Linked DNA regions of Homo sapiens: region 1 is linked to region 2. The links come from fine-mapping of genetic effects on gene expression. A gene starts in region 2. The other region holds a variant in brackets. All regions are shown on one strand. Distances are between the middles of the regions.

Region 1 (2,913 bases), 20 kb after region 2:
TTACAGTTATGAAGAAATAGCAAGGTCACTGGAATAAATCATGCCTCTGTTTAACAGGAATTTGGTGTAGGATGGCATGACCCAGGAGGTTTTTGTTTTTATATAAGCCTGTTTTGTTGCTGGAATGAACTAATAGCTCTCTACATAATTTTGATAAAATTCATAATGTGGGAAGCATTGAATTATTGACTGTGTAATACCATCTTTCATCTTAGAATATCAAAAGTACTTTACAATTTATTCCCATTACATCTCTGAAGAGTAGGCATTTCTAATACTGTTTTATTGATAGTTGCTAAAATAATGAAAGAAAAAAACTTTCTTCTGCTTGTAAGTGGCAGACAATTCAGAATTGAAGAGCTCCTCTCCTAAATAATACAAAATAGCTTTCAAATAATTCATCCTTCATAATCTATTACTGTACAGGTTATAAGAGGTTAGAAATCATACCCAGTGTGAAACACAGCCTAAGTAGTTTCATAAAAATATCACTTGAAGAAAAGATTTCAGACCTGGCATTCAAGTCATAAGATTAAACCTCATCCCCTTCATTGTCCAGAACAAATCCTAACATTACTGGGTCTTACTTTTAATAGAACGATTGCCACTCTATGTAGTGTAATTACTTTGGCAAAGTTATTACATTTCTATAGCTGAAAACTAAAGCATGAATCCTATTGTGATGGCGTCTTTTTCCATCTCCTGGGAAGACAATTCTAACAAACAACTCTATTATATCTATCCAGTTTGATTTTGTCCTCTTTCTCTTCCTCCTGGTAATAACAGCCTTAATCTTTTTTGGATCATGAGTTTTTGTGGTGTCTTTCCAAATCGCACTGTATTCTATCTTTAGAGATACAAGATTATGACTTGCTGTTTCAGAATCTAGAGTCAGATCTATGTAAAATGAATTAAGAATGTTTTGTCGACCATAATGTTGTGGCAGAAGTCTAGAATCATCATCCCTTGTTAAAATGGAAAAGCTCATAAAGTTTTTGTCTTAATACCTGTTATTGATACATACCCTTATATCAGTTACTAATTATTTGAGTGAATAGTTTACTCTGCTATCTCACTTATTAGAGCTTTAAATAAGAAAATATGGTCTGAAAGTTTTGTTTTCATCTAGTGTGCGTATCATATCCTATTCTTTATATTTTCAGGTTTTCAGAACTGCATCTTATTCATTTTCCGAATAAAGCACAAAGTGCTCAAAATCAGAGTTTAATCTCTTCCTCTAATATTCGACTATCTTCGGTAGCATTCATGTATTTTTAGTTAACATAACGATTGGTTTAGTTTTGGCTTATTTAAAGCATTTTACACTTGCTGTTTCAGATGTCAGATGTCCCCTGTGAGCTTCTTCCTTGAGGCAGCCTGCTCTATAGGACAGGTGAGCCCAGCGGGAGCCAGCCCACTGCAGACCCAAACCCTCTAGTCCTTGTCACAAAAAGAGGCTGGGACCTGATGGTGGTTCTCTTCCTGACTTTTCCTGGTGGTCCTTCTGACTTGGAGTGGCCTGGCAATTTCGGTGGCGTGACAGCCGGAATGCTGCCACTAAAATTCCTCTCTGGGCACCATGAGCGGCTGACAGGGCACGCGGAGAAAACGATTCGCTTCTCCCAGGATTGGTGGAGCGACCGCTGTTGGACGAATGTGGTCGTCCCTGGATGTCTGAGCAAAGAGACACTGCCATGGCGGCCGCCGGTCAGCGTATAAGGTCTGTTAGGGAGACCCGAAGCCCTGCACCAGGAACGCAGTTTGGCTCGCCCAGCCCACCCTGCAGGGCTGGCTCTCCAGGCGCTGGGTCCGGGGAGAAGAGGACAGCTGCCCCGCCGCACCGCGCATCCTTCCATCCACTGTGGTAC[A/G]TGGCGCTGCCCCGGTCTCCAACGTCGCGCCACACCTTCACGGTCTCACCCGGAAGTCGAAGCCCAGAGACGGTGCCGGCCGCACCCAATCACTGCTCTGCCGCTCCGACTTCCGCTACGGACTCGCCCAGCCTCCTGGGAGAAACGCTGCAGTGCTTGGGGTGCTGAAGCCCCTTGAGAGCCTTGTGTTCTGTGAGAAAGTTGCATTCTGAAGGAACCTCAGCTGTTTGCTTTGCTCTTCTGCCACCCAACCCTACCTGTGCCAGACTGAGGGCTCTCCCTGCCCCGCCTTAACAGAAGAGAATTCCAGTTGCTGTTTTAATTTATTGAATCTTATTTATAACTGGTTGGAGAAAAATATGGTTATAATTCCCACTGAACAGCTTATTAAAAGTTACAGTAACACTATGATAATTGAGATATTGTCTTTTAGGGAATAAATAATGAAATTATAAGATGAAATATACAGATGAAATTATAAGATGTCTGGGAATTTACTCCATTGGCAGGAGAAGTTGCTGGGGTTATAAAGATTGTTAATTCAAATGATAGAAATTGGTTTCTTTTTATGTGTACGTTCTTCATAATGTTCTCTCTACTATTATGGATGTATGAAATACTCCACAATTTAAAAGCTTCCTTTTATACCCGGCATGGAAGCTCATGCCTGTAATCCCAGCACTTTGGTAGGCTGAGGTGGGCGGATCACATGAGCTCTGGAGTTTGAGACCAGCCAGGCCAACATGGTGAAACCCTGTCTGTACAAAAAATACAAAAATTAGCCGGACATGTTGGCCCGCCCCTGTGGTCCCAGCTACTCCGGAGGCTGAGGTGGGAGAATCGCTTGAACCTGGGGAGTTGAGGTTGCAGTGAGCCAGGATGGCGCCACTGCACCTCAGTCTGGACGACAGAACGAGAGCTTGTCTCAAAAAAATAAATAAACGAAAGATTTATTTCAAAAGGCTAATCATGTTTCAGCGTTATCAATGCCTCGTTCCAGAAAAGCTCATTTCTCTTACTCTTTTCTTTGAGCCGCCTCCCCGTT
Region 2 (2,913 bases):
TTTCAGTTCCTTTTGTACCAAGTTTTTAAAAATTATCATCTCTAGGCAGGGCGCGGTGGCTCACGCCTGTACTCCTAGCACTTTGGGAGGCCGAGGCGGGCGGATCACGAGGTCAGGAAATCGACACCATCCTGGCTAACACGGTGAAACCCCGTCTCCACTAAAAATACAAAAAATTAGCTGGGCGTGGTGGCAGGCACCTGTAGTCCCAGCTACTCTGGAGGCTGAGGCAGGAGAATGGCGTGAACCCGGGAGGCGGAGCTTGCAGTGAGCCGAGATCACGCAACTGCACTCCAGCCTGGGCCACAGAGCGAGACTCCGTCTCAAAAAAAAAATAAAAATAAAAATAAAATTATCATTTCTGGCTGGGTGAGGTGGCTCACGCCTGTAATCCTGGCACTTTTGGGAGGCCGAGGCGGGCGGATTGCCTGATCTCAGGAGTTCGAATCCAGCCTGGGCAACACGATGAAACCCCGTCTCTACTAAAAATACAACAACAAAAAATTAGCCAGGCGTGGCGGCGTGCGCCTATAGACCCAGCTACTCGGGAGACAGAGGCAGGAGAATTGCTTGAAACTGGGAGGCAGAGGTTGCAGAGAGCCAAGATCGCGCCACTGCACTCCAGCCTGGGCGAAAGAGAGATTCCGTCTCTTATTAAAAGAAAAAAAAATCATTTCTAAAATATTTTGTAGACGCAGGGTCTGGCAATGTTACCTAGGCTTGTCCTGAACTCCTGGCCTCAAGCGATCCTCCCACCTCTGCCTCTGAAAGTGCTTGGATTACAGGTGTGAGCCACTATGCCCGGCCTGTACTAAATTCTTTAAAGTTGAGAGGCTCCACATTGGCTCTTCTTCCAGCCTTGAAGACTTTGACCGTGGAATTGATCCAACGAATGCCTCTTCATCCCTCAAATTCCGCCTGAAATGTCACTTCCTCAGGTAAACCTGAGTTCATAGGGTAGGGCACAATCCCACAGGGTGGGAGAGATCCACCCACTCACCCACTGAGATGCAAACTAATCCAAAGGGGCTTCTATTCCTCTTTCAAGCATAGGGAGTGCTCAACGACTCCACCCTGCGACCCCAGGCTACGGGAAGCAGTTGACCCTGCAAAGCTCTCCACTCCCTCACCATCTGGGAGGGGACGCTGTGCTGGTGAAGCTTTTAAAACCAACTTGCAGACTTACTTGGACCCTCAAGTTTACTCATATACATAAAAAGTGATAAGAATCCGAAAAGACAGCCAGGGGAATTAAATGCCAGTTGGGGCCAACGGGGCCCTGATCACGGAAGAGGGCGCCCCCAGCTCTCAATCTTCACACAATCCCTGCACCCAGGGTCACAGAGCATGCGCAGGTCCTTCCCGCCCACTTCCGGGGCAACTGCCAACCACCGCGCAGGCTGAGCCCCAGGCAGGAAGCAGCCCACTTGGTGGGGTTGGGGTATGAGTCCTTCCTCGCGGGGGCTCGGTGGGTCCTGAGTATTCTTTGGCCGGATTTGCTGATCCGTCTGCTCCAGGTGAGCTGGGAAGGCCGCAGGAAAGGCCCAGAAGGGCCTCGCCAGGAGGCTTAACTGGACAGGGGCTTCTTGAACATTCTCTGTGCCTAAACCTCCGGGTCGCTGCCTGCCCACGACTGGATCTCCTTAGTGTCTGGCGTAGCTCTTGTGAAAAATTCAGGATTGTAGAGTTAGAATGGGGGTGTTGAGCCTGTATCAATTAAGCTTTAAATGTTATGATCTGAATTAGGGTTTATGAAGTGGCTATGTTATCTTCAAAGAGTTAATGTACGTGTTTGGGAGTGGGGGTTGGGGAGTTAAGGGAGCGAAGTGGTAGCTGCCAGTTGAGAACCCACCAGCCTACGTCGTCTGCACCCTCGACCTATGTAAGCATCCTGTAATCCTCACAAGGGTCTTACAGGTACGAATTATCATTTCAACTTTGTAGATGAGGCGCTTTAGGTGCAGGCATGTTAAGAATCAGCCAGTATGATGATGGTTGAAACTGAGAGCTTGGAATCTACCACAGGTTTTATTTATTCCTCAAACAAGCTAGAGACGTATTGCCACCAAGAAGCTTGCTGCCTGGTGAGGGGTTTTTACAGTTAGGTAAAGAATTGCAGAGTAGCTGTAAAATCACATAACTGTGATATGTGACATGATGGGAGCTAGGCAAAAAACTTGGACTAGATCTTAATGGATCTTTTTGCTTTGTTTTCCTTAAAGCATAGGTTCACAAAGTACAGTCCGCAGGCCAGCAGCATCATCTGGGAACTTAGGAAAAAACCAGCCCTACTGAGTCAGAAACTGGGGATGTGGCCCAGGCAATCTTTTACCAAGACCTCCAGGTGATTATAATGCAAGGTAAGATTTGAGAATTGCTTCCATAAAGTAATAAAGGACCAGTGGAATGTTTTCAGTTGAAATATGAAAGGATTCTGTTTGTATTTGAAAAGGTCAGTTTAGCTACAGACTTCAGAAATTGGAGGCACCATTGTGTATCTAGGAGAGAGACATAAGTGGTTTAAACTAGGGTGGTGACTGTGCCTACAGAGCTGTTCTGTTCACTTAATGTCCTGATTTTAAATAGTAGAGAAGACTGCTTTGGGTGTATGCTTGGGGAAAGGAGGGCACAATGATACCTGGAGTGAGTCCTCTTGTGTCCTTTATGAAGGGGTGGCCTGCCCCTCCACACCTGTGGGTATTTCTAGTCGGGTGGGACGAGAGACTGAGAAAAGAAATAAGACAGAGACAAAGTATAGAGAAACAACAGTGGGCCCAGGGGACCGGCGCTCAGCATACCAAGGACCTGCACCGGCACCGGCCTCTGAGTTCCCTCAGTTTTTATTGATTATTATTTTCATTATTTCAGCAAAAAGGAATGTAGTAGGAGAGCAGGGTTATAATAAGGAGAAGG

What was found.
Region 1: its variant is fine-mapped to the expression of TRIM61 in whole blood (INTERVAL, PIP above 0.99). The same link has a PIP of 0.9 or more in lung.

The regions. Positions count from the first base shown.
Region 1 is chr4:164,955,966-164,958,878 of GRCh38, reverse strand. FAM218A (family with sequence similarity 218 member A) reads right to left here and starts at 1,931. Exons shown (of 1, transcript NR_160935.1): 1 at 1-1,931. It also overlaps a transcript of TRIM61 not described here. RefSeq lists enhancers at 1,672-1,831, 2,132-2,181. The variant A/G (reference allele first, on the strand shown) is at 1,869.
Region 2 is chr4:164,976,135-164,979,047 of GRCh38, reverse strand. TRIM61 (tripartite motif containing 61) reads left to right here and starts at 1,391. Exons shown (of 3, transcript NM_001414904.1): 1 at 1,391-1,517; 2 at 2,223-2,360. RefSeq lists enhancers at 1,113-1,172, 1,203-1,282.